Regions from separate parts of the Homo sapiens genome. Here region 2 is linked to region 1. The links come from fine-mapping of genetic effects on gene expression. A gene starts in region 1. The other region holds a variant in brackets. All regions are shown on one strand. Distances are between the middles of the regions. Region 1 holds the start of POLR3K (RNA polymerase III subunit K). Region 2 overlaps NPRL3 (NPR3 like, GATOR1 complex subunit).

Evidence for each region. PIP is the estimated chance that this variant, and not a neighbour inherited with it, causes the effect.
Region 2: its variant is the best candidate, but not a certain one, in a credible set for the expression of POLR3K in monocytes (Quach 2016, PIP 0.84).

The regions. Positions count from the first base shown.
Region 1 is chr16:47,452-58,749 of GRCh38, forward strand. POLR3K (RNA polymerase III subunit K) reads right to left here and starts at 6,157. Exons shown (of 3, transcript NM_016310.5): 1 at 6,025-6,157; 2 at 4,107-4,194; 3 at 1-106. The coding sequence starts at 6,135. SNRNP25 (small nuclear ribonucleoprotein U11/U12 subunit 25) reads left to right here and starts at 6,377. Exons shown (of 5, transcript NM_024571.4): 1 at 6,377-6,607; 2 at 8,008-8,098; 3 at 8,326-8,431; 4 at 9,088-9,162; 5 at 9,635-10,218. The coding sequence starts at 6,566. The coding sequence ends at 9,692. It overlaps RHBDF1 (rhomboid 5 homolog 1), which reads right to left. Exons shown (of 18, transcript NM_022450.5): 18 at 10,608-11,298. The coding sequence ends at 10,889. RefSeq lists enhancers at 5,423-5,949, 5,678-5,837 and silencers at 6,168-6,487, 6,628-6,727.
Region 2 is chr16:93,152-101,151 of GRCh38, forward strand. It overlaps NPRL3 (NPR3 like, GATOR1 complex subunit), which reads right to left. Exons shown (of 14, transcript NM_001077350.3): 8 at 7,221-7,358; 9 at 4,994-5,150; 10 at 68-174. Among named protein-coding and RNA genes, the nearest start is that of MPG, 19 kb to the left of the region's middle. The variant G/C (reference allele first, on the strand shown) is at 4,602.

The DNA of each region.
Region 1 (11,298 bases):
CACTGAGCATTGCAGCACTTGTAGAAGGTGGTCATCGGCTCATCTGCAGAGCGGGTCTGAAGCTGCATGAAGTAAGCACGAGGATGTTCGCATTTGGGACACGACTCTGGCAATGAGAAAAAAGAAGTGACCACATTTAAAAAAAGATGCTACTCATGGCTGTCAAAAGTAGGTATTACTTAATATGTGGGAGGCCAAGGCGGGCGGATCACCTGAGGTCAGGAGTTCGAGACCATCCTGGCCAACATGGTGAAACCCCATCTCTACTAAAAATACAAAATTAGCCAGGCGTGGTGGCGGGCGCCTTTAATCCCAGCTACTTGGGAGGCTGAGGCAGGAGAATCGCTTGAACCCAGGAGGCAGAGATTGCAGTGAGCCAAGATCGTGCCACTGCACTCAAAAAAAAAAAAAAAAAAAAAAAGTAGGTATTACTATAATATCTTTTTTTTTTTTTTTTGAGATGGAATCTCGCAGTCACCCAGGCTGGAGTGCAGTGGGGCGATCTCAGCTCACTGCAACCTCTGCCTCCCGGGTTCATGTGATTCTCCTTGCCTCAGCCTCCCAAGTAGCTGGGATTACAGTTGCCCGCCACCACACCCGGCTAATTTTTTTGTATTTTTAGTAGAGACAGGTTTTCACTATGTTGGCCAGGCTGGTCTCGAACTCCTGACCTCATGATCCGCCCACCTCAACCTCCCAAAGTGCTGGGATTACAGGCATGAGCCACCGTGCCCAGACTACTTAATATCTTTAAAGATGGTAAAGAACCTCCCTGCTCATTTGATCCCCCTTGACAAGGGTAGATCTACAAACAGTGATGTCATTCCCACCACGCTGTAACACTAAGGGAATCTGGGAGACCTGTGACTCACACACTCTCCCCCTCCCCTCCCTGAGTCCCATGGTTCTTCTCAAATCCAGCTGAAGGCTGGTTGGAAACGTAACATGGAAGGTGACTGTTTTGGTCCATTTTGTGCTGCTGTAACAAAATGCCTAAGACTAAGTAATGGTTAGATGGTGGAAGAGTTTTGAAGTAAATGCTGGGAAAAGCCTGCATTGTCAAGAATTGAGCATTAAGGGCCGGGCGCGGTGGCTCACGCCTGTAATCCCAGGACTTTGGGAGGCCAAGGCAGGCGGATCACGAGGTCAGGAGATCGAGACCATCCTGGCTAACATGGTGAAACCCCGTCTCTACTAAAAACACAAAAAATTAGCCAGGCGTGGTGTCGGGTGCCTGCAGTCCCAGCTACTCGGGAGGCTGAGGCAAGAGAATTGCGTGAACCCGGGAGGCGGAGCTTGCAGTGAGCCGAGATCGCGCCACTGCACTCCAGCTTGGGCAACAGAGTGAGACTCCATCTCAAAAAAAAAAAAGAATTGAGCATTAAGGGCGATTCTGGTGTGGGCTGAAAAGAAGAGAAGAGGCCGGGTATGGTGGCTCTTGCCTGTAATCCCAGAACTTTGGGAGGCTGAGGCAGGTGGATCACGAGGTCGGGAGGTCAAGACCAGCCTAGCCAAGATGGTGAAACCCCGTCTCTACCAAAACTACAAAAATTAGCCGGGCGTGGTGGCAGGTGCCTGTAATCCCAGCTACTAGGGAGGCTGAGGCAGGAGAATCGCTTGAACCCGGGCAGCATAGGTTTGCAGTGAGCAGAGATCGTGCCACTACACTCCAGCCTGGGCAAAAGAGACTCCATCTCAAAAAAAAAGCCAGGCACAGTGGCTCAGGCCTGTAATCCCAGCACTTTGGGAGGCTGAGGCCAACAGATCACCTGAGGTCGGGAGTTCGTGACCAGCCTTATCAACATGGAGAAACCCCATCTCTACTAAAAATACAAAATTAGCTGGGCGTGGTGGCGCATGCCTGTAATCCCAGCTACTCATGAGGCCGAGGAAGGAGAATCACTTGAACCTGGGAAGTGGAGGTTGCAGTGAGCCGAGATCACACCATTGCACTCTTCAAAGCGATTTCACTTTGAGAAACTTATCCTACACCTGACAGAAATGGCTTCAAACACTCTATTTCTGACATTAGGTAAAAAGATTTTTTTTTTTTAGACAGTCTCACTCAGGCTGGAGTGGCATGGTCTCGGCTCACTGCAACCTCCGCCTCCTGGTTCAAGCAATTCTCCTGCCTCAGCCTCCTGAGTAGCTAGGACTACAGGCACGCGCCACTGAGCCTGGCTAATTTGTTTTTTTTTTTTTTTTGAGACGGAGTTTTGCTCCTGTTGCCTGGGCTAGAGTGCAATAGCACGATCTCAGCTCACTACAACCTCCGCCTCACAGGTTCAAGCGATTCTCCTGTCTCAGCCTCCCAAGTAGCTGGGATTACAGGCAGGCACCACCACGCTCAGCTACTTTTTGTATTTTTAGTGGAGACGGGGTTTCACCATGTTGGCCAGGATGGTCTCGATGTCTTGACCTCGTGATCCGCCCACATTGGCCTCCCAAAATGCTGGGATTATAGGTGTGAGCCACCGTGCCAGCTGCTAACTTTTTCACATAGCAGATTTGTATGTTCTTTTTTTTGACAGAGTTTCGTTCTTGTTGCCCAGGCTGGAGTGCAATGATGCAATCTTGGCTCACTGCAACCTCCACTTCCCGGGTTCAAGCGATTCTCCTGTCTCAGCCTCCCGAGTAGCTGGGATTACAGGTGCTGCCACCACGCCTGGCTAATTTTTTGTATTTTTAGCAGAAATGGGGTTTCACCGTGTTAGCCAGGCTGGTCTCGAACTCCTGACCTCAGGTGATCCGCCCGCCTCGGCCTCCCAAAGTGCTGAGATTGCAGGCGTGAGCCACCACACCCAGCCTATATGTTCTTTTATAGGGGGAAAACCACAGTACTAACCATCAGTTATCTCTCTCACCTCTCAATATAACTTACATTTACGTCTTCCCCTTTCCTCTCCTGGCCACATCTATGTCTACCAGACATGCAATAAACATGTATTTTACCCAATCTGCAGTTTAATGCTCACTGGTATTAACTTCTAAAAATCTATATTAGAAGCGTGTATTAGTCCGTTCTCACACTGCTATGAATACCTGAGACTGGGTAATTTATATAGACAAAAGGGGTTTTGTTTGTTTTGAGACAGAGTCTCACTCTTGTCACCGAGGCTAGAGTGCAGTAGTGTGATCTCGGCTCACTGCAACCTCTGCCTCCTGGGTTCAAGCAATTCTCGTACCTCAGCCTCCTGAGCAGTTGGGTCTACAGGCGAGCGCCACCACACCCGGCTAATTATTTTATCTTTAATAGAGACAGGGTTTCACCATGCGGGCCAGGCTGGTCTGGAACTCCTGACCTCAAGTGATCTGCCTACCTTGGCCTCCCAAACTGCTGGGATTTACAGGCGTGAGCCACGACACCCAGCCAAGAAAAGAGGTCTAATTTACTCACAGTTCTGCGTGGCTGGGGATGCCTCAGGAAACCTACAATCATGGCGAAAGGAACCTCTTCACAGAGCAGCAGGAGACAGAATGAGTGCGAGCAGGGGAAACGCAAACGCTTATAAAACGATCTGATCTTGTGAGAACTCACTCACTATCAGGAGAACAGCATGGGGGGAAACCGCTCCCATGATTCAATTACCTCCCACTGGGCCCCTCCCAGGACACCTGGGGATTACGGAAACTATAATTCAAGATGAGATTAGGGTGGAGACACAGCCAAACCATATCAAACAGAAAGAACATACTTTTTTCCTTAGACTCTTATTTTTATTAATCTACTCATCATTGCCATTATCAAAGCTATCACCTGTTGAGTGCCTCTTATATACCAAGCACGGTATAATTCACTTTATGCTCTCGCGGTCTACGAATATGGATTAGCCCCAGAGAAGTCAAGAGACCCAAGGAAGGTCCTACAACAATACAAGGTTGCCCTGAGAATCTGACCCGGGCCTGTATGACTCCAAGGCTGGCACAAATATTGCTTGTCTGACAGATTATTAAACAGTAACAAATACAAATAAATTATTCAAGAACCATTTTCTATTTTTAGAAACCTACATCATTTATATGACATCATAGACTCTGCCAAGCAGTGGCATCAACAGCCTCATAATTATCCACAGTTTAGCAACAGAAACAGTTTTCCCTCTTACCTGCAGTAGAGTCAACATTCTCCCAGGCAGCTGCTCCACCAAGCACATCATCCACTTCTTTCAGTTTTGGGTACTTCCGATTTGTTACCTAACAAAAACAACACTTCAGACTCCAAGTAACTGAATAGCGCAAACCTGGGCTGCCAAACCTTAAATTTCAGGATTACATAAGAGTTCACTCGGCTGGGCGTGGTGGCTGACACCTGTAATCCCAGCACTTTGGGAGGCCAAGACGGGCGGATCACGAGGTCAAGAGATCGAGACCATCCTGGCTAACACGGTGAAACCCTGTCTCTACTAAAAATACAAAAAATTAGCCCGGCGTGTTGGCGGGCGCCTGTAGTCCCAGCTACTCAGGAGGCTGAGGCAGGAGAATGGTGTGAACCTGGGAGGCGGAGCTTGCAGTGAGCCGAGATCACACCACTGCACTCCAGCCTGGGCTACGGAGCAAGACTCCATCTCAAAAAAAAAAAAAAACAAAGAGTTCACTCTTCCCGTAGTTTCAAACTCCAAACTCCCACAACACAGTACAAACTGGAGTAGCATGCAAACATTAAGACTGACGTAGCACCAACATATTCTAACTGCTAAAAAGTAAAGGTATTCTGGCCAGGCGTGGTGGCTCACGCCTATAATCCCAGCACTTTGGGAGGCCAAGGCAAGCGGATCACCTGAGGTTGGGAGTTCGAGACCAGCCTGGCCAGCGCGGTGAAACCCCGTCTTTACTAAAAATACAAAAATTAGCCGGGGATGGTGGCAGGCGCCTGTAATTCCAGCTACTCGGGAAGCCGAGGCAGAAGAATTGCTTGAACCCGGGAGGCAGAGGTTGCAGTGAGCCGAGATTACGCCATTGCACTCCAGCCTGGGAAACAGAGCGAGACTCTGTCTCAAAAAAAAAAAAAAAAAAAAAAAAAAAAAAAAAAAAAAAAAGGTCGGGCGCGGTGGCTCACGCCTGTAATCCCAGCACTTTGGGAGGCCGAGGCGGGCAGATCACGAGGTCAGGAGACCGTCCTGGCTAACACACGGTGAAACCCCATCTCTACTAAAAATACAAAAAAATCAGCCAGGGGTGGTGGCGGACGCCTGTAGTCCCAGCTAATTGGGAGGCTGAGGCAGGAGAGTGGCGTGAACCCGGGAGGCAGAGCTTGCAGTGAGCCGAGATCGCGCCACTGCACTCCAGCCTGGGCGACAGAGCGGGACTCCGTCTCAAAAAAAAAAAAAAAAAAAAAAAAAAAAAACAATAAAAAAAAATAAAGAAAGCACACAATACATTACATAATATATTAGAAGGTAATAAGCCCTATGGAAACAATTACAAAGGGAAGGAGAATAAATTGGAAGGAGGGGCTGAAATTTAAAATACGGTAAAGACAAGACCAATGAGTAAGGTGGCGATCTAGGGGAAGAGTGAACTGAGCAACAGCAAGTGCAAAGGCCCTGCTAGCACCATGAGCACGATGAGAGATCGTCCAGGAGGCGGTGTTGATGCGGCAAAGGGCAACAGGAAGGGCATTAGGACTTGAAATCGGAGACGCACGCAGGGGAGGGAGTCAGTGTCGGAACCTGGTAGGCCCTGGGAGAACTCCGGCTTTTCGTCTGCGTGAGCTGGAGAAGAGCCGAAGGTTTCTGCGCACAGCACGGACCTGCGTGCCTCAGCTTTAAGGAAATCACCGTGGCCGCCGCTGTGAACGCAGAGAAGGGCGCGAGCGTGGGAGCAGGAACCCAAGGCGGTGGGAAACGGTGGGGCTTTCTGAGTGTATTGGAAAGTAGAGCCCACAGATCTGCTGCAGACCAGAAAGGGGCGCGAGAAAGAGCGGACAGAGGCAGACGCCGGGGCTGGCGGCGATGGAGCAGCAGTCGGAGGACGCGGAAGGCCTGCGAGAGTCGCCCGCGCCCAGCGCCGGCCTTCGGGTCCCACCTTGCGGGTGATGTTGTGCACGTAGGGGCACGTGTTGCAGGCGAAGCGGTGGCAGCGTTGTCCCTCCTCCACGATCAGCCCGTTCCCGCAGCCGGGGCAGAACAGCAGCATGGTCTCGAACTCCGCAGGCTCCAACTCCCGGCAGCTCCCACTGCCGCTCAGCGCCGATGCGCCGCCCGCCTCGAGCTCACATTGGTCCTGGCAGCCTTCCCGCCACACCAACCAACCAATAGACAGGGCGATTCTGCGCTCCCGGCCCTGCTGCAGGCTGTCTCGCACTTGTCATTGGTCACTGCAGCCGCCCCACCCCCCCCGGCGCGCCAGTGGCTGGGCGGCCTCGCTGGGGCGGGCCGCAGTTCCTGCGCGTGCGCGCTTGGCCTCCCTAGTGCGGGCTGGCAGTGCGGGCAGAGCCCGGCTGAGAGGGGCGGCCCTGGAGGAGACGGAGGCCGCGGGTGGGCCCGAGGCGCAAGAGGAAGATGAGGACGAAGAAGAGGCGCTGCCGCACTCCGAGGCCATGGACGTGTTCCAGGAGGGTCTGGCTATGGTGGTGCAGGACCCGCTGCTCTGCGATCTGCCGATCCAGGTGTGTGCGGGCGGGGGCTGGGGGCGCGGGAGTCGTTCCCCGGGGTCCGGGCATCCGGGCGCCGGCAGCCTCCGAAGGTGCTGGTGGGAGACTGCGGCCCAAGGCTGAGGAAGGCGCCTCTGGGCGTAAACGAGGGTTTTAACCTTGACCGGGCGCACTCGCCTGGGGCGCGAAGCTTAAAGAGGAACCAAAAACCTCATTAGTGAGTGACATCAAATGACATTTTAATGTAATTGTATTTAGGGGGCTCGGGGGACAGGGTCTTGCTGCGTTGCCCGGGCTGGAGTGCAGCGGCGTCCTCCCACCTCAGCCTCCCGAGTAATTGGGACCACAGGTGCGCGCTACCACACCCGGCTAATTTTTAAATATTTTGTACAGAGGGAGTCTCACTATGTTGCCCAGGCTGATCTGAAACTCCTGGGCTCAGGCGATCCTCCTGCCTCGGCCTCCCAAAATGCTGGGATTTAGGTGTGAGCCACCCGCCTGGCCTGTAATACCTTTAAAAGTCAAAGTTGAGGCAAAAAAAGAGCCTACGGTAAAAGAAAAATTTAGTTTTAAATAAGAGCAAGATTAGTAGTACTGATTGTTCCATTTGCCTCAAGCGTCAATCATGTGTCAAAGCGTCAGTATCATGCTTTGGGACGATACTGTCTTTTTATTTATTTATTTATTTATTTGAGACTGAGTCTTGGTCCGTTGCCAGGCTGGAGTGTAGTGGTGCCATCTCGACTCACTGCAACCTCCCCCTCCCGGGTTCACTACAGGCACGCGCCACCACGCCCGGCTAATTTTTTGTATTTTTAGTAGAGACGGGGCTTCACCATGTTGGGCCAGGATGGTCTTGATCTCCTGACCTCATGATCCGCCCGCCTCGGCCTCCCAAAGTGCTGGGATTACAGGCGTGAGCCACCGCGCCCGGCCAATTTTAAATGTTTTATATTTTGCTCATCATGGATATTTTAATTGCCTTGTATTTCTTAAATGTTGTATTAAAATATTTATTGTTATTACCGTGTTTTGCTGCCCCGGTAAATTTTGCACACCTGCCTTACTCAGTCCCGAAGCCTGGCCTGGGTCCTGATGATCAGGGATATACTCAGCGTGAACTGACAGGCCTCTACCCACCCCTGGGGGCAGGTCCTCATGTGAGTTTATTCTCTTGCCTGTTTCTTAGCACCTCTTTCCCCCAGAGACTCTGTCCACTATGGACATTAAAATGTGAGTGGAACATGAGATTGGGGCTCTGATGAATTGGGAAACCATAACGTACAGGCAACCACCCTTCCTTGCCCTTCGTAAAATGGAGCACCACTTTTTGGCCACTATCGGCTTGTTCTTTGTTGTTGCTCAAGGTGGTAAAGAGAGCCAGGGTTCCCACTTCTGCCCTTGGTCTTTTGTAGGTTACTCTGGAAGAAGTCAACTCCCAAATAGCCCTAGAATACGGCCAGGCAATGACGGTCCGAGTGTGCAAGATGGATGGAGAAGTAATGCGTAAGTGCTACCCTCCTCCCTTCAGGTTATGTGGTCCAGGCTTTCACAGCAGGAAGACCTAACAGTGCTGGTCAGCCTGCTCAGAAACTCACAGGCCATGCCCAGGGGTACTGGGGCAACCACAAACCTGCCCTGTGCACAGAGGTGTTGGTTCCTTTCCTGCCATCGGAGGCTGTGGCTTTGGGTTCTCACCATGGATCTTCTCCCATCTGTGTCCGTGGTTGCAGCCGTGGTTGTAGTGCAGAGTGCCACAGTCCTGGACCTGAAGAAGGCCATCCAGAGATACGTGCAGCTCAAGCAGGAGCGTGAAGGGGGCATTCAGCACATCAGCTGGTAAGTGGAACAACATTCCCTTCATTATAGCCCTTCGTGGGGCTAGTGCCCTTCTTGGCACTGTCACCAGGCACCACCTGGAAACAGCTCTCAGCTCTGCATGAGTACAGCACCACTGAAGTGATGAGCTCCCTGTCACAAGAGTGATGAGCTCCCTGTCACAGACAGTGCGGGTCGTTCTGTGCCTGGGACTCCTGCCTCGGCCATCCCCAACATTCTGCTCTTCCATCGGCATCACCCCATCCGAGCTGCTGGGTATCTTCACTTGGGGACACTGTCGGGAATTTCCAGTGTGTCTGGAAGTGGCCTCCCTAGTTTTGGATGGTACACCTGTAGGGGCTCCCATCCCCTTCTCACCTGGGTGCTGTCAGCCCTCACTCTCCTATTGGATCAACTATCCTGTTCACTGAGTCTCAACACTGTCGCCTGTTGCATTAGCAAGGTTTGTTTGGCCAAGCCGCCCCAGACAGCCCTCTGAGAACAGAGCCTCCTTGTAGCTGCCTCAGACCCAATCTGCACATTGTACAGAACAGCCCAGGTAGGGAGGACAGCTGCCCCAGGTCCCATAGGACTGCATGCCTCAAGCCCACGTCATGCAGAGCCACTCAGCTCACCCTGCTCAGGGCACGTGGTTTACCTGCATTCCCCTCTTGCAGGTCCTACGTGTGGAGGACGTACCATCTGACCTCTGCAGGAGAGAAACTCACGGAAGACAGAAAGAAGCTCCGAGAGTAAGTGCCGGCCACGTCCTGAGCCGTAGGGCACCGCTGTTCTGTTGCCCCTTAGTCCCCCATGCTCTGCCAGAGGGCTGCGGCTCCCTCTCCGGAGATAACACCCTCCTCCAAGGAGCTTCCTTGGGGCCCTCCCCACTAGGAGAATGGCAGGCAGAGGGCAGCTGGAGGGGCCTTGCTGCTTCCCACCAGTGGCAGCTTAGGGCTACACAGTGCCAGGAGGGAGGAAATCAGAGTGGGCATGGAGGCGAAAGGCTGTGACTCTATCTGACACTCAGTTCCCTGCCCCGGGGACTTGTGAGTCGGAGTGCTTCTGGGTCTGTGAGAGGATGGCCACTGCACTTCCTGGCCTTCCCAGAAGCCACACGCCTCCCCTCTGTTGTTTCTTCGTGGTCCTCCACAGCCTCAGGAGGGGAGTCACAGATATGTCCTTCTGTAGGGCAGGTGCTTTATGCCTTTCCTTCTTTTTCAGCTACGGCATCCGGAATCGAGACGAGGTTTCCTTCATCAAAAAGCTGAGGCAAAAGTGAGCCTCCAGACAGGACAACCCTCTTCATCACTGGTGGCTGAGCTTTTTCCCAGCAGGAATGGGTCCTCGAATCATCGTGCCTCTTTCACAGAAAGGACGTTGTGGTGGCCTCACCCCAGGCATGCCCAACAGTAACTGTCAGCATAAACCTGGGGGCCCTCAGGACTAGGACAGGGTGAGCCAGTGCTCCCTCCTTTCATGTACTTGGCCTGAGACTGACCTCTCCCTAGGTCCAAATGCCCTAGTCACATGGCAGACCCACGGCCTGGCCCACTGTATAAAATAAACCTGTTTGCTTCTTAGTTTGAAAAGTAGAAAGCCACAGTAACCTGGGTAGCAAAGACTGAGATTGCCCCATCACAGAGGTGAGTTAAGGGGAGAGAATTGGTACAGGCGAGTCCTATAGTCCAAGATGGCGCCACACCACCAAAGCCTTGAGGCCACACCACTCCCCAAACCACACAACTGTGTTACCATGATCTCCACAGCAAGGAGGAAATAAAAGCAGAGCGGCTTTAGGGTTTGCATCCTGGAGCTCACAGTGGCAGCAAGCATAGCACAGCTGTGTGTGGGCCCTCCAGCCTCAGCCTTTAGGGTTCCCTGCAGCAGGTTCGGTGGACAGGGAGGGAGTGTGGGGTGGAAATTGGAGCTGCTAAGGGTGGGGGCGGGGTGCTTCCCAGCATGTGGGGAGGGTATGACAGTACATCCCTAGGTCCCTGTCCCAGCGTCGGCTACCAGCCACTCTAAGAAAGAGCAAGGTGCACGTGCCTGGCTGAAGGATTTCACTGGGAAGTGAAAGAGCCCGTGACTGTATCTGACACTCAGTTCCCTGCCCGGGTGAGTCAGCCACAAGGGGCCTGCAGGACCTCCCTCCACAGCTTCCAGCCAGAAACAAAGAAGGATAGGGAAGCCCTGGTCAAGTTAATGGCAGCTAAAACGCTCCCAGTCCATTTATTGGCCACATGAGGTGGTCGTCAAGAAACAAGTTAGAAGGTTATGACAGGAAGTAGTATAATAAATGCCCGGCAGTACGAGGGGTTCAACAGAAGTGAACAAGGCACAAGAAAGAGGTCTGTGTTCAGGAAACAGGCCAGTCCCCACATGGAGCAGGTGACTCCTGTAAGCCTGTGAGGCTCAGGGAGGTCGTGTCTGGCTCTGGCCTGCTGGAGCACACGGCCGCTGGAGCCCGCAGCCAGCTCAGTGGAGCTGAGCGTCCAGTTCGTACTTCTCACAGAACTTGTCAGTGAAGGGGATGCAGGTGAGGAACTCACACCACTCACAGCGGACAGGATAGACGTAGAAGAGGACCACCAGGCCAGCCAGGAGGCCCAGGAAGACCACCTGAAAGATGATGATCTGGCAGCGTTTCCGGTACAGGTCGAACTTGCCAAAGCTGATGTAGGGCAAGAAGGCGAAGGAGAGGAAGAGGCCACTGATGAACCCTGAGATGTGGGCAAAGTTGTCAATCCACGGCAGCAGCCCAAAGGTGAAGAGGAAGAGCACCACAGCCAGCAGCTTGAAGAAGGCACGCCAGGGCCGCGCCAGGATCTGCCAGCTCTGGAAGAGCTCCACGAAGAGGCAGGCCAGGATGCCGAACTGGGAGCCAG
Region 2 (8,000 bases), 44 kb after region 1:
GGAGGGCCCTGCCAGCCTCACCCCTTCCCACTCGGGGCTCCAGGCTCTGGCAGCCAGCAGCACTCACAGACATACGCTGGCATTGGGAGACAGCATGTAGACGTTGTTCTCACACAGCGGGTAGATGATGATGGCCTTGCCCCAGTACACCAGATGAGCTGCAAGCTGGAAAACCTGCAGGCAAAAGGGAAGCTGCAAGGACCATGCCTGAGGCTGGCCCACCGGGAGCTGTCAGCAGCTCTCAGCCTGGGTGGCCATGGCCTACCAGCCTGGAGAAGCTGGCCCCAGCCTCATGCAGAACACACCTGGTGGCTATGGCCCGAGACTTCCTCCCTAACGTGGAATAGCACCTTCGCAACCTCTCACTAGGATGTGGGGCACAGCCAGCACACAGCACTTTCTGTGAGCAATGGTTTTTTTTTTTTTTTTTTTGGAGACAGTCTTGCTCTGTCGCCCAGGCTGGAGTGCAGTGGCACAATCTCAGCTCACTGCAACCTCTTGCCTCCCAGGTTCAAGCGATTCTCCTGCCTCAGCCTCCTGAGTAGCTGGGATTACAGGCACATGCCACCACGCCCAGCTAATTTTTGTATTTTTAGTAGAGACAGGGTTTCACCATGTTGGCCAGGATGGTCTCGATCTGACCTCGTGATCCACCCACCTTGGCCTTCCAAAGTGCTGGGATTACAGGCATGAGCCACCGCACCCGGCCACAATGGCCTTTTTGTCACTGCTCCCTGTGCTGTTTGGTGGCACTGTTTTCCCATCCTATGCTGTCTTGACTCCCACTGAAGAATGGTGGTCTCAGGCCACAAGCATGGGAATGTCTGGGGTGCTGGGAACACAGTGCTGGCCCAGCTGGGCAGGGGGCTTAGCTGGATGTCCTGGCAGGGGCACAGCCCTCTTATACCCCCTAAAACTCCAGCATGGCCTTGCCCGATGATGGGTGTGGAGTCACTCAGCATGCCACCCCTACATACCCAAAGGCCCCAGGTCTGCCCCATGTGCCCCGACTCCCACAGAGACCCCCCTCCCAGCTTTGCTCTTGTGGACCCTTGAACATCAGGAAACACAAACACAACCCAAACCCCTTCCAGAGGAAAGCTCAGGCCTGAGGTCTGAGAGCACAGCACCCCAGCACTTCACGAAAAGGTGTGTGAAATCCTAAGCTCTCGCACTTCTGCCTCTGCATCAGCCCAGGACACCACTCCACCCTCTTGGCGGGTAGGCCTCTGTGGAGGTGAGTCACCCCTGCCTGGACACCGTGCTGCCCTGCTGCTGAGGACACTTATACCTCAGCTCAGAAAACAGGGCCTCCAGACTGAGTGAGTGGCTCATGCCTGTAGTCCCAGCATTTTGGGAGGGCAAGGCAGGAGGATCGCCTGAACCTCGGAGTTCGAGACCAACCTGGGCAATATAGTGAGACCCTCATCTCTGCCAAAAATTTTTATTTAATTAGCCAGGCACTGCGGCACATGCCTGTAGTCCCAGCTACTTGGAGGCTGAGACAGGAGGATTGCTTGCACCTGGGAGGTGGGGGTTGCAGTGAGCCAAGATTGTGCGAGTAGTGCCCCCAATGGCTCCGCCAACCCCGACATGGCAGGTTTCAGCTCCATCACCGCCCTGTTCCCTCACCCCACGTGCCACTCGCATGTCTCTCTCAAAAAGACACCCCCACTTTCCCCCAGCTCTGCTCAGCATAGTGGTCTCCACCTCCTGCCTCTCCCTGCAGCAGCCTCTCCAAGATGCTGTCCATTCTGGAAATTGAAAATCCAAAATCAGTACTTAAGGGCAAGCATAAGGTGCCAGCAGGACCAGGCTCCCTCTGGAAGCTCCAGAAGAGAATTCGTCCTGCCTCTTCAACGGCCAGTGTCTCTTGGCTTGCGGTCACGTCACTCCACTCTGTCTCTGTGGCCACATCGCTGCCTCTTTTTATCAGATCTTCCTCTGCCTCCCTCTGATAAGGGCCTTAGAGATTACATTTAGAGCTCAACAGGATGATCTTCCCATCTCAAGATCTTCTACTTAGTAACATCTCCAAAGTCCCACATGAGTTCACATTCATAGATTTTGGGGATTAGGATGTGTATATCTGTGGGGGCCATTATTCAGCCAATCACAACGAATATACAGCACGATCCTAATTTTCATAATACAAAATAAAATGTTTGTGTGTGTATATATATATATATATATATATATACACACACACACACACACACACACACACACACACAATAAAATGTATATATACAGATAAAAAACCTGGAGGGATCTAGGTTACCTGTGGGATATGGGACTGTGGGAACTTTCTGTGTCTATAATTTGTGTAGTGTTTGAAGTCTTGTAACATACTAATTTTATCATGACACACCCAAAATTTACTTGTAGATTCTCTCTGGATTGATATAAACATGAAGAATTTTATTTTATTTTATTTTTTGAGACTGGGTCTTGCTCTGTTGCCCAGACTGCAGTGTGTAAAATCACAATTCACTGCAGCCTCGAACACCAGGGCTCAAGTGATCCTCCCACCTCAGCCTCCTGAGTAGCTGGGACCATGGGCACACACCACCATGCCCAGCTAATTATTTAATTTTCTGTAAAGACAGGGTCTTCCTATGTTGCCTAGGCTGGTCGTGACCTCCTGGGCTTAGGCAATCCTCCTGCCTCATCCTCCCAAAGTGCTGGGATTACAGGCATGAGCCACTGCACCCAGCCACATGAGGGACTTTAAACTATCTGGTGACATTCACACCTGAGGCAGGTGCTCCCCAGGGGGCTATCTCCGGAAACAGAGTGACCCACCAGGGCTGGGCCCCAGGGGCTTCCGCACCGCCACACCAGCAGCAACGCCCTGCTGACCTGCAGCAGGGACAGCAGGGAAGGGGTACAGACAGAAGAAAACAATGACAAACAGCCTTCCCTCTCCCCAGTCAAGGCCACGGCAGGGAAGTGAAGGGGACATCAAAAGGAGACCAAAGCTTTGTCCAAGGAGACTCTGAGAGCAAGGGTGAGAGGCACACTGTCCACACAAACTCCTGCCAGACAACCTCAGAAGAGGGCATCAAAGCTTTGTCCAAGGAGACTCTGACAGCAAGGATGAGAGGCACAGTGTCCAGCACAAACTCCTGCCAGACAGCCTCAGGAAAGCCAGGCCCAGCTCCTTTCAAAAGCTCAACACAGGACCAGTGAACAGCCACAGGCATTTACCATGTGGTCGGTGCTCATCAGGACACGGAGGGTCACTGCCTCCCTCACTCTGCAGGGTTGTATGGAGTGGTGAGTTCTTTTAAAATTCTCTGTCTCCTGAATGCTATGAAGGTGGGCAGGACATGGTGTTTACTGAGTCCTGTCCAGCCCATGAAGTCCAAAGGCACAGCTGGGCATGGTGGCTCATGCCTGTAATACCAGCCCTTTAGGAGGCCAAGGTGCGATGATCACTTGAGCCCAGGAGTATGAGGCCAGCCAGGGCAACATAGGGAAACCCCGTCTCTACCAAAAAAAAAAAAAAAAAAAAAATATTAGCCAGGCGCACACCTGTAGTCCCAGCTACTTGGGAGGATGCTTGAGCCTGGGTGGATCATGATGGCACCACCACATGCCAGCCTGGGAGACAGAGCAAGAACCTGTCTCAGAAAAGAAAAAAGAAATACAAGGGCACAATTTGGTAAGTGCTCTCACAGAGGATAGATAAAGGGTCCTGAGATACAGAGGCGGGAGACTTACTCTCAAAGACAGAATCCAAAAAGGCTGCTTTCGGGGAAAAGTGGCCTGAGAGTCAGGCCTTGTTGGACAAGTTCCCCTAACGTGCTAAGCAGAGACCTGTTTCACAGGCCAAAAGAGCATGGAAGCTCAGCCAGAGGGACCCAGGCGGGCCCACCTCACGCCTGTGTTCCTCGGCAGCCTCTGCTGCCCCCTGGTGGCCATGCTGTGCACACCGCCACCAGACGAGGGCGCCACCCACAGGCACCACCTGCTCCCACCCTCAGGCAGTATTTCAATGGTCCCGTGGCTCTGGGCCACGCCCACATGACTAGCAGCCACAGCTGATCCCATGGCCTGTTGGCCACCCCATCAGCAGCCCCTGCTTCTGATTTCTCCCCGTGCTTTTTTTTTTTTTGGAAACAGAGTCGCCCAGGCTGGAGTACAGTGGCACAATCTCAGCTAACTGCAACCTCTGCCTCCCAGGCTCAATTGATCCTCACACCTCATACCCCCAAGTAGCTGGGACTACAGGTGCACGCCACCACACCCAGCTATTTTTTTTTTTTTTTTTTTTGTATTTTTTGTAGAGACGGGGTTTTGCCATGTTGCTCAGGCTGGTCTCAAAGTCCTGGGCTAGGATGACAGGCATGAGCCACCGTGCCCAGCCTTGCCTGCGCTTTTCCTCCCACACTCCAACCAGATCCGCAGACGAGGCTGAGGGGCCCTCCATCTAATCAGAAAGGGCAGCCCTCTGCATGGACAGGCCCATAAGCATGTGGCTCAGCAAGGACGTGGCATCTTGTACAGAGTGCACAGGCCAACACATGTGCACACACAGGGGCGTAAGGCCACCAGGTTAGGTCTCTGTTCTGCACATGGGAGGGCCCCGCATCCAA[G/C]CTTCCTGCCCTTAGTTCCCGTATGTTGTTCATGCACCACTGTGAGACCCCCATGGCCCTGCCCGCTGCTGCCCTGCCCACCCCCTAGCTCTGGTGCCTCAACCTCCAGGACTGCAAGCACCCCAGTCCTTTCTCTCACAGACTCGCCTTACCTCTCTGAGACAGAAGAACAAGTCAGTCCCGTGGCTCACTCACAAAGCCAGCCCTGAACCCAGGTCTGACTCAGATGCCAAAACCTCCAGCCATCCCAGGGACTGGCCCCACCCCATGGTGGGCTGTGCCGCGGCTCTCAGCTGGACACAGCCCCTGTGGATGTACTGTGGCAGGCGGCCTGCCTTTCCTGATGCCCCAGCACCGCCACATGCCACCCATCTGGGCCTCCAGAGCTATACCTGCAGCAAGGCCAGGTCCGCATCTTGGGCTAGCTGCTGCAGGTTCTTCACAGCAGATGTGGTCTTGATCACCCGCACTAGGGCAGGGGAGCAGTCAATAGGAAGCTCACCCAGCAAGGACTTCTCATCACTGAGCAGCAGCAGGGCATGGTAGGGGCTGCAAAACAATCACCTGTCACGGAACACACGAAGTGCAGGAACCCTGCACCGGGTATGCACCAGGTCCTGCACCAGGTATGCACCGGGTATGCACCAGGTCCTGCACCAGGTATGCACCGGGTATGCACCAGGTATGCACCTGGGACTCAAACACACGGAACATACGAAGTGCAGGGAACCCTGCACCAGGTATGCACCAGGTCCTGCACGAGGTCCTGCACCGGGTGTGCATCAGGTATGCACCTGGGACACAAACAGGCAGCTGGAGCCTCCTGGCCCTTAACTGCGGAGAGAAGGGCCAAGAGCGGGATTTGAGAAAAGGGCAGTGGTCTGTTTGGAGGCCTTCACAAAATCTGCCAAGGACTGGCTCATGCCTATAATCCCGGCACTCTGGGAGGCCAAGGCAGGCAGGTCACGTGAGGTCAGGAGTTCGAGGCCAGCCTGGCCAACATGGTGAAACCCCATCTCTACTAAAAATAAAAAAATTATCCGGGTGTGGTTGCACCCACCTGGGGTCCCAGCTACTCGGCAGGCTGAGGCAGGAGAATCACTTGAGCCTGGGAGGCGGAGCTTGCAGTGAGCCGAGATTGCGCCATTGCACTCCAGCCTGGCGACAGAGTGAGACTCTGTCTCAAAAACAACAAAAACAAAACCTGCAAGGATTATGTCACCCTCGGAAAAAAACACGACAAAAGTGGGGAAGGCTCGAAGACTGGACTCTGTATCCCACCTCAGAGACGCCCAGCAAACATCTGTTGATTGAAGACATGAATGAATCTTTCCTAAGGAAATTGTCCCAAATATGGGAAAAGCAAAATCCTCCTCACAGACTAGGGACCAAAGTACATTAAAATATGCTTAGCTAGGATTGAAAGCAAAGAGCACGGACTGGGGAGGGTGGAACTAGGCAGCGCTTTGCTTTCTGTCATTTCCAAATTTTCAGCAATGTGCCCAGATATATTTTTATAATTAAAAAATGTTCAAGGTATTGGGGGACTTGGGAACAGGTGGTGCCAGAAGACTGGGCTCAGTTCTTTCCTTGCAGAAAATCAATTAAATTGCCAGGGCATGGTGGCTAACACCTGTAACCCAGCACTTTGGCAGGCCGAGGCGGGTGGATCACGAGGTCAGGAGTTCAAGACGAGCCTGGCCAACATGGTGAAACCCCATCTCTACTAAAAATACAAAAATTAGCCAGGTGTAGTGGTGTGCACCCATAATCCCAGCTACTCAGGGGGCTGAGGCAGGAGAATCGCTTGAACCCGGGAGACAGAGGCTTCACTGAGTGGAGACTGTGCCACTGCACTTGAGCCCCGAGCAAGACTACATCTCAAAAAAAAAAAAAAAAAAGTCAATTAAATTAAGAAAGTATATTTTGGGAGGCTGAGATGAGCGATGAGTGGATCACCTGAGGTCAGGAGTTCGAGACCAGTCTGGCCAACATGGTGAAACCCTGTCTCTACTAAAAGTACCAAAAAAATTAGCCAGGCATGGCAGTGGGCGCCTGTAATCCCAACTACTCGGGAGCCTGAGGCAGGAGAATCACTTGAACTTGGGAGGTGGACGTAGTGGTGAGCCGGGATCGCACTACTGAAATCCAGCCTGGGCGATAAGATCAAAACTCTGTCTCTCTCTCACACACACACACACCCCCGCAAAAAAAAAAAAAAAAAAGAAAAAGAAAAAAAAAAGAAAAAGAAAATAACTGAGATCCCATGAGTGCTGACTGAAATGCAAAAGACTGGGGTAGGGCAACACCATTAAGATGAAGTCCCTCCAGCCCTCCGGCCTCCCCAAGGACACTCAGCCCCACATCCAGGCTGCCCTGCCCAAGCCTAAGGTGGTGCCAGAAGGGCCCAGGAGAAACCTGGGATTGGTCATTTCTGGACACAACTGGATACAAAATTATGTGTTTTAACTTCTATAAACGGCAGAGCCCCACCTGCAAGCTTCCGCAGTGGGAAGAAGAAAAAGAGAAATTTTGGAACAAAGTAAGTGGTAAAATCTCAGGCAGAAGCTAAAGGGAAGGGCCCTGGCAGGGAGTGAGCACGTGGGGCTGGGCACTTACCGGATGGCTTTCAGGCTCCGTTCGATGGCCTCTGGGGGGATCAGACTGGAGGCCGCATAGTGGATCTTGTGGGGCAGGCAGAAGCTCACCTCCAGCCAGCTGTTGATGTGAAGCCGAACTACGCCCGACGTGCACAGGCTGCAGAGAGTGGGCGCTGTTACCCGTTCACATAAACTTTCTAACCATGCACACAGATCAGAAAACACCCTGCTCAATGGTGCTGATTCCCCTGCTGCTTAGGGGAAACTGCAGGTGGAGACCCGGGCAGGAGAGCATCTCTTAAGATCACATTATGTTTAAGAAAAGAAAATATGGGGGCCGGGCACGGTGGCTCATGCCTGTAATCCCAGCACTTTGGGAGGCCAAGGTGGGCGGATCACGAGGTCAGCAGTTCGAGACCAGCCTGGCTAATAACACGGTGAAACCCCGTCTCTACTAAAAATACAAAAATTAGCCAGGTGTGGTGGCGGGCGCCTGTAGTCCCAGCTACTCGGGAGGCTGAGGCAGGAGAATCACTTGAACCCAGGAGGTGGAGGTTGCAGTGAGCTAACATCACGCCACTGCACTCCAGCCTGGGCAACAAGGCAAGACTCTGTCTCAAAAAAAAAAAAAAAAAAAAGGAAGAAGAAGAAGAAAGAAAAAGAGAAACATATTTCTGGCTAGCCCTGGAATCTGTAGTCCAACCAGACTGCCAGGGCTTGAGAGAAGCCGTACCCTGTCCTGGGGACTCAGTGCACTAGAGGCACTCTAACTCAGGCCCCTGCCCGTCCAGACCCCTGG